2 linked regions of the Homo sapiens genome follow. The protein of the gene in region 1 purifies or fractionates together with the protein of each later gene. This does not show direct contact. Each region holds a gene or a part of one and is shown on either strand. Other genes may lie near its edges.

Evidence for each region. Proteins that work in one complex are often made in the same cells at the same time.
Region 2: the proteins of HOXB3 (region 1) and MIPEP purify together in Homo sapiens (affinity purification with mass spectrometry; one large-scale study listed by BioGRID and IntAct). This does not show direct contact.

The regions. Positions count from the first base shown.
Region 1 is NC_000017.11:48,552,242-48,555,741, forward strand, and holds part of HOXB3 (homeobox protein Hox-B3), read right to left. Parts: exon of another isoform or gene 3,484-3,500; intron 3,378-3,483; coding exon of another isoform or gene 3,290-3,377; exon of another isoform or gene 392-3,289; 5' UTR 234-391; coding exon 1-233. UniProt on the Homo sapiens protein: Sequence-specific transcription factor which is part of a developmental regulatory system that provides cells with specific positional identities on the anterior-posterior axis.
Region 2 is NC_000013.11:23,864,371-23,869,690, forward strand, and holds part of MIPEP (mitochondrial intermediate peptidase), read right to left. Parts: intron 5,079-5,320; coding exon 4,922-5,078; intron 1-4,921. UniProt on the Homo sapiens protein: Cleaves proteins, imported into the mitochondrion, to their mature size.

The DNA.
Region 1 (3,500 bases):
AGACCCGGCCTCATGCAGCTGCCGTTGAGCTCCTTGCTCTTGGCATGTGGGGCAGCGTTGCCCAGGGACTGCAGCGAGCAAGCTGAGCGCTGGTAGTCGCCCTCCAGGTGCGTGGCGGCCTGAAATGGGGGTTGGGGGGGGACATCGAAGCCGAAGCCATTGCTGCCAGGGTACGAGGAATAGCCTCCGAAGAGAGCAGCCGCGGCGTTGTCGTAGTAGGTGGCTTTCTGCATCGCTGGGTGAGGCCTGGGCAGTGGGTGGCAACTTGGAAAGGCCTGATACCCTCAGGACCGGACATTGGCAACCCTGGGGGTCACGTGACACGCCGGACCCCCCCCCCCCACCTCCCCTCTCTGCCCCCCTCCTCCGGGGTCTGTTCCAAGCGGCTGACCTGCGAGGCGAGAGAAGAGACACAAGGGGGAGAAGAGGACTGGGGCTCGAATCCATCTTAGGAACTGAAAAGGGAACTGACATCAATAGGGTTTTTTCTTTTCCCCTCCCCAACATCTCCAAAGCAGATGCTGAGAAAAAAAAGCCCACCAGTTTTCATTTCCACTAAAAAATAAAAAAATAAATAAAGACTATATGCCTTTCAAGACTGCCTAGATGTAGAATCTATGGCAAAGGCCATTGCTTCTCTCCTGCCTGTGCACTAGCCCCTGACCTCCCCTAGTCCCTCTCTCCCTATCTCTCCTCCCCAACTCTGGGATAGGATGGCTCAAGGGAGGGGACACTAGGAGACTCCAAAATAAAAGCATCATCAACACCCTCCTCTGAGCCCAGAGGCTTCTATGCTTCCAGCCTTTGCCTCCTTCCAAGTCGGTTTAGGTCTCTTGCCCAAGCAAAGTCTAGCCTGAAGGAAAACCAAAGGATCTCCTAAAAGAACAGGCAGGAGAAGCAAGTTCAGCAGAGAAGCTTCTCTTGTGAGGTATCCTCTCCACTTCCCACCACTCTCCCACCAGGAAGACAACAACAGCCTGACCTAGAAACTTCCTGATGATTTTTAACCTCAAGAGCCAGCTGAACCGAGACTCATCTGTCCATGGCCCTGCTGCAGGTACCACCACCTCCAGCCCTTGTCTTTGCTCAGCCAAACCTGGGATCGGGCAGCCAGTGGCCCTGTGGGGCCCCCACATGGAGCAGGATTGTTTCAATTTCCTGGGCCACGCCAGTTGGTGCTGTGACCATTTGGCCCAGGTCTCTCCCCGGACCTCTTTTTTTTTTTTTCATGAGACTTAATTTTTCCCACCCTTTCCTTCACCGTCTGTTTTCTTTGATTTCCCCCAAAGCAAATAAGAAACAAGAAGTTACAACTGCTAGACTTTTCTACTGAGACGGGGAAAGTGCTTTCCAAAAGAGAAAATTATTCCTGAGGAAAAAAAAATTAACAAAGCAATTTTAACAATATTATTCTCTAGGTTAGAAACAGAGGTATTCCTGTTGACTGAGGTTCCCTGAGGCAAAAAAAAAAAATCACTATTTTAATACAGCCTTTTAAAAGTGTGCCAGAAAAATAAAGATTCAAACTAACATAGGATTTTGTGTATTTGTTCTGAAACTTCTGACTGCATTTTTTTCCCTCCATCTCTCCCAACTCTTCACCATCACTTTTCATAAAACCTCCATACTGCCATGTGTGTTTGGAAAACTTTAATCTCATTCAGCCTAGCTGTTCAACTCCAAAGAAAACTAAACATAGGAAAATAAAATAAAAGGAGTGCAGGTGAAGAAAAGTCCCTCCCTCACATAAATCCCCTTCTTCATGGCACAGATTTATACTCAAAAGGGAATCAGTGTAACCCTGAGTTCCGATTGGTTTCTGGAAATACACATGGGTCTGCAAAGCAGCAGGTCCTTCCAGGGAGAACCAGAGTTCAATTGACCAGGCTGACCCAATCCCTTTATTATTATTACCATTAGCCTCTGCTGATTTAACCAAAATTAGCTTCCAAGCAGCCCTGGCTGAAGGGGGAATTAATTAACAGGCATTAGTTGTGGTTGTTATTAATAGAGAAGAGAATGAAATAAAAACGTTGGAGGGGGTTGGCTGGCTAGGCCCTGGCTTTATTTAGTCTGATTGTTACAGCAATAATAATGATGACGATGATGATGATAGTAATAATAATAAAACAATAATTTAACTAGATGCCTGGGGCCGAAATTCCTGCCGCTCCCCTTGCAATAAACCCCAAACCATCGCGGGACGGAGGCCAGGCGAGTGTGGAAAGCGAAGGAGCCAGAGACGCGATAGGAAAGAATGGAGACTCCGCCGGTGGTGCAGACAGGGCTGGGAAGGTTTGTGCACCCGGGTAGTCCCTGGCTGCTGCTGCCAGGCTGCCTCAGCCGGTCGCTGCTGCCGCGGCGACTGGCGACAAGCTACCAGCCACCTACGATGGCCCAAGGAGGCGAAGAAGAGCAAGCGATCAGGACACCAAAACGGTTATCGGAGGCAGGTTCCCAGCACACCAGCCGGCCGAGGGCCGAGCCCCGCGGGCGGCAGCAAGTTTTGGGAGCTGGAGGTAACCGAATTAAAAGGCGCCTTAGAAACTCCGCTTCGGGACTTTGCTCAGCAGGGCTCCGGGTTGGAGGGCGCCGAGGCCTGGCGGACGGGACAGTGGGAAGAGAGAAAGGTGCTAAGGGGACCCAAGATCTGGGATCCAGAACAAGAGGGGGTGGGGAACAACTCTACCAAGCCAAACAGATCTATTTCCCTTGCCTCCATGTTGGAAAAATTCAGGTTCCATATGGCTCCTCGGGAGGGAGGGAGGGAGACGGTGGCTGCCGGCTTCCCCCCAGGGTCTCGCTGGAGAAGGGAGATGAGCCCCCCGCAAGAACCCCACCTTGCCAAGCACACCCCAGGGAGAGCCAGGAGAGTAACAATAGCTGGGGAAGCCCCGAGAGAGGGGATAGGCCATCTTCCAGGACTTAAAAAAATTAATGGGAGAAAGAAAAATAACAAGAAAGGAAGACAGAGAAAGGTTGAGACTTTCTTAGCAGCCGCGGAGAAAATTCAGCCCTGGATCTGGCTGCTGAAAGAAAAGAGAGAGAGGAGAAAAGAGGAGAGAAGCAGGAAGAGAGAGGGGAGAGAGAGAGGGAGAGAGAGAGAGAGAGAGAGAGAGAGAGGGAGGGAGGGAGGGAGGGAGGGAGGGAGAGAGAGAGTCGCTGCGTGGAAGGAAGCTTAAAGCTTGTGAACTCTTCTTGAACCGAGATTGGAGTCATATGGGCCATAAATCATTGAGACATACTCTCCGCCATTCACAAACTGATAGCCTATTTCAGTCCAGCTTACCTTAGCCACCGACGAGGGGAGAACAGGCAGACATAATATATATTCACATCGAGCCCCAGAGCGAGCGGCAGGCGACAAATCTCCCCTCCTTGAAGGCAAAGGAAAAAAAGACCACTGTTTAAAGCTGCGTCGCCCCCCGCCCCCCCGCCCCCGCCCCGCAAAGCCACCCCGGCTGGGGAGCCCGAGGGGCAGACCGGCCAGAGGAGCCGCG
Region 2 (5,320 bases), on another chromosome or scaffold:
GATCTTTTAATCAGAAAAAAATTAAATTGGCATACTAATAATCCACAGCGTCAGATTCTATCCCAAAATTAAAAGAGTTAATGGGACCAGGTGGCTCATGCCTGTAATCCTAGTACTTTGGGAGGCTGAGGGCAGGGGGTGGATCACCTGAGGTCAGGAGTTCAAGACCAGCAAGGCCAACAGGCTGAAACCCCGTCTCTACCAAAAATACAAAAATTAGCCAGGCGTGGTGGTGCATGCCTATAGTCCCAGCTACTTGGGAGGCTAAGGCAGGAGAATAGCTTGAACCCAGGAGGTAGAGACTATAGTGAGCCCAGACTGTGCCACTGTACTCCAGCCTGGGCAAGAAAGTGAGACTCCATCTCAAAAAAAAAAAAAAAAAGAGTTAATGGGAGGCTAAAGAAAAAAGTACAAAATTTCAAGGTGTTTCTATCTATTCATATGTGTAAGAAAAAAAAGTTCTGAGACATGTCTGACGTTTTCAGAGTTTTAAAGAGATATCTAGACTGCTTTGTTCATAAAAATAGGTGCAGTGTAGAAGTATAATTCCCTGAAATAAATTTTTTAAGATCAATGTTTTTCTTGATAACAATTTTATTGTTATATACAACTGTAGAATAATCTATTCAGGATAAATATGAAAAAAATAGCAAAATAAGAAAAATAAATATTAACTTCTGATAGAATTTTTAAAGTATTTTTATTAAAATACTTCTGCCATAGTTGTCATAATTTACAAACCCATAAAGGCAGTGCAGTAGAATTATCACCGTTTCCCACAAGAGGAAATGTTTTGCAAGTATTTCTGAATGTAGCACTTTTTATCACTGACTTATGTGTACAGAGCTTTCATATGTATTTTAGTTCACCACAAACACTATGTTTGTATTTTCCAGATAATCTTTTATACAGTTTTAAGTTTCCTGCCCTCTCTTCAATTTAAGTTATCTCCTTTTGAGTGAAATAAAAGACTAAGGAAATAAATAATGGTGGTTAACCTAAACCCAAACCATGAGGTTTCTTGCCACTGTCAATACTTAACAAGTCCTGTGTATACGAATTCTGAAAACACTGGCTCATGTGCCATATGAAACAACAATAGGAATTTTTGGGGAACAAAGACATTATTTAGTCAACAATGAAATCTCATTTTAGGATTATATTCCAGGTACCATACCAAACTGTTTTCAAATGAATCCCTATGTATGCTTGTATACGTTTTATTTCTTAATAACCGTGTTTTAACATTCACCCATCTTATTCTTCCAGTCATTTTACATGTGAAGAATCTGCCTCAATTAATTTTTTTTTTTTTTTGAGATGGAGTCTTGCTCTGTTGCCCAGGCTGGAGTGCAGAAGTCCCATCTCGGCTCACTGCAACCTCTGCCTCCCAGGGTTCAATCGATTCTCCTGTCTCAGCTTCCTGAGTAGCTGGGATTACAGGCACCCGCCACCGCGCCCAATTAATTTTTGTATTTTTAGTAGAGATGGGGTTTCACCATGTTGGCCAGGCTGTTCTTGAACTCCTGACCTCAAGTGATCTGCCTGCCTCAGCCTCCCAAAGTGCTGAGATTACAGGCATGAGACACCACATCTGGCCTGCCTCAATTAGTGTCCCCAGAGAATTGTCATATTAAGATTCAGTTTGAAACCCCCCACTAAGTGCCTCACCGCAGTTACCTCCTCATTCACTAGCCACATGAATGCCCGCCTTAGCCTCAGTCAGCCTCTCTGTCTTCCTTCTGCTCTGCTGAGGACTCACTCCATCACTGTGCATGACAGTTTCATTTCCCTCAGGGCGCCTTCCACAGCCACAGATGCATCTGACAAATGCCCCGAGCTCCTAAATCCCATGGCATTGTTTTGTCTGTACTACTCCATCGACACCGAAAACGTGCCAACCTCTATTATTATTTATCTTTTTATATGCATATATCCAGCTCCTCAACTAAGCTTTAAATCCTCAAGGACCCAGAGCACATCTTACGTGATGATGTGCACAACAGCCCCCTGCCAATACATCAGCACACCAAGCACTTAGTGCACAAGGGTGACCTGCCAGTCACGGAATCTGGAGCTGGGTGCTGCAGGTCCAGTGAGCTCCACGCTGCTACAGCCAGTGGTCATGCCCAGCCCTCCTCACATCTGACCTGGCCACAGCATGAGTCAGCTGATCTCTCCCCTCTCCTGTAGACAGACCTTCTGCGCGGCCTCCAGGACCACACCCTGTAATCACTTTCCACCTCCCTTAGTGGCCGTTACATCTGGCAGCGTTAACTAGCAGTTCCTCACATGCCTGGCCTCTTAAACTTGAAGGCCCCAGAGCGCAGTCCTTGGACTTGTTCTTTAAGTTCACTCTCTTAGTGGTATCAGAATCTCATTTTAGAGGTTCAGACTTACATATGAAGCTCAGAACTCCACACTCCATCTAACTGCCTACCCAACTTCACCACTTGAACCTCATTTGGTATCTCAAACTTAACTTGAAACAAACCAAGTTTCCGGTCCTCCCAATCTTAGTTAACAGTAGTAACTCACTCTCTTTCTAGTTGCTTAGGTCGAAAATGTTGGCTCCCTCTTCCAAATACTCTGTACCCAGAATCTGATCACATCTTACCACCTTCCCTGCTACCACCTGGTCAAGATGCCAACACTTCTCATCATGGTTACTGCAAAACAGCATCTAAACAGGCCCTCTTCTACCCTGGCCCTGCTGCAGTCTTCTCTCAGGAACAGCAGCACTGACTCACCATTAGCACTGGAGTCAGATCATCTCACTCCTCTGCCCCAACCCCCACAGTGACCTGCTGCACTTGCATCAAGTCTCTACTTAATGCCGCCCCTTGTCAGTCTGTTCCCACCTCTCGCCACTCTCCTTGCACACGCTGCGCTTCAGCCACTCTGCCCTCCTCAAACGTGGCAGGCATTTTTCTGCCTCAAGACCTTAGCACTTGATAGTGACTCTGCGTGAAACCTTTCTCCCCTCAAGAGCCACAGCCTCATGCTTGTGTCTGTCAAGAGCACGCTCACATTCCACATTCTAAGTGAGCCTTCCGACAATGCTCTCTAAAACTCCAACACCAGCCTACATGCCCACATACCTTATCCCCTTCCCTGTTCAGTTTTCTCCATGGCTTGTATTAACTAATAACATACCACATACTTTATCTACTTATTTCGTTCTTTACTGTTCTTCCCTTGCTCCCAAGAATGTAAACTGCATAAGGATAGGAATTTTCTTCTGCTTTGTACACTGACTTATTTCCCTGACCGAGAATAATATCTGACATACAGTGGGCAATCAGTAAATATTTGCTGAATTAATAAACAAAAGGGGGATGTAGATGATATAAAACATAGGGCATTAGGTCTCAAGCAGCCTGTGGAAAACCATAAATGTAGCATATGTGTTTAGGCTTCAGTTCTGCCACATTTTAGCAATATAACCTAACCTTAGATTCCTTATCTGTGACACGAATACAAATACCTACCTCACAAAGCTGCAGAGGAAGGAAATGAGATAACAACAGGATAAGCACTGAATGATATTCTAATATTATTATTTTATATAAATATAAAATAAAAATATGGTACTATTATAATCAAACTGTTGACAACAGCGACTACAGAAAAACATACTTTTCACCAAACTGATACTTACAAAAAAAGAAAAAACATACACTAAAAACACACATTTAATACATAACATACATATTATATCTGTTTAGGAGCTTCGATTATATGAAAAAAAATGTAAGTGTTTTAAGGGTTCGGGGACAAAGGAGTCCAAGGAAAGTGAAAAAGTTTAACCAGCTTCATGAAAGAGGTGGGTTTTGAGCTGAGCACTAAAAAAACGGGGTAAGATTTTAACAGGCAGACCAGGAAGAAAAGCTGCTCTCCATAGGAGAGTGACACGAGCAAGGGAACCCAGGCCGCAATGAGCGTGACACGCCTGTAGCTTAACCGAGAGCCCTGACAGGTCAAGGGAAACAGTTGTTTACGAAAGAGTAAGAAGTAAGATTGAGTGCATTTAGAGAACTTTGGAGAAGAGAGGAACATGCTAGGGTGAGAAGGGATAAGCACAGAAGGAATAAAGACAAGCGAGGATTCAGGTTGTGATCTGCCCCCAGTGTCCCCTCTGTCGGTGAGTGGAATGTCTAACCAGATGTACAACCAGAAACCCAGGGGGCCCACCACAATGCCTCCTCCTCCCTCTCACCCTCACTAAGTCTTGCAACTTCACTGCCAAGACCTTGAGTCTCACGCAGCTCCATCATCACGGCCACCCTACTCCTGACTCACCACCTAAATTACAACTGTAAGTTAATAAATGCTTCTGAAAAAACGTATTATGTACATTTATATTATTATTGTGTAACATTTTCTCTTAGACATTATGAATCATAAGGAACTCAACATAGCACAAGGCAAGTTTATGACAAACCCAACGACACACTTCCGTAACACCTCACCTAGCACAAACCTTCCTAAGCAGTACTCTTCTCTCTGAAAAGGAGGCTTATCTGACTGTGTGTTTTTTATATGACCTAACCTACATTTAACCTTGACCTCAGTAAACATACTGATCTTTCATTCTCTTACACTAATTCTAACCAATTTGTCAAATTCAGCACAGAAACTGTGTTAAAATGAAAACAATTTAGACTAACATCAAAATGAAAATTTAGGTTATGATTTTACTCTCAACATTCACATAAAATAAAATTCTTTGGTTGGACAGAATTATGCCAAATTATTAGCTCTATTTAAAAATGGTTCCTATAAAAATACATAGAAAATCTCAATAAATGGTTCTCTACATGTATTAAAAATAGAACACTAATTTACAGCTATTTAAAATCAAAAGCTCAGTTTCATAAAAATCCTATTTTGCCCTTAAATGTTGGATAAACAGGCTTACCTGGATTTTTAGCTATCGTTCCTTGGAGAGCCCTGTGAGAAAACGTGGAATACCCCACCAACTTTGCCAGAAGATCTCTGCTGCTGAGCAATTCTTCTAAACATTTCAATTGACCAGCATTGGGATAAAGAAAAATTTTATAAGCAGCTTCTCGCACCTACGTTTAAAAAGTAAATGGTGAAGGCTATAAATATCATCACACAGTCCTATGCAACAATAACACAGGCTCATGCTCACCACTTGATCTGCAGATGATCACTGCTTTCAAAATAAAGCAATGGTCTACACGAGGCCATAAAGCTTCCAGAGTCATAAAATAGCATGGGATGCAATAGCATACTTGACTGCAGCTCTAGGGTACTGTTCTGAGGTACGGTGGGGCAAACCTCTACCCAGTGC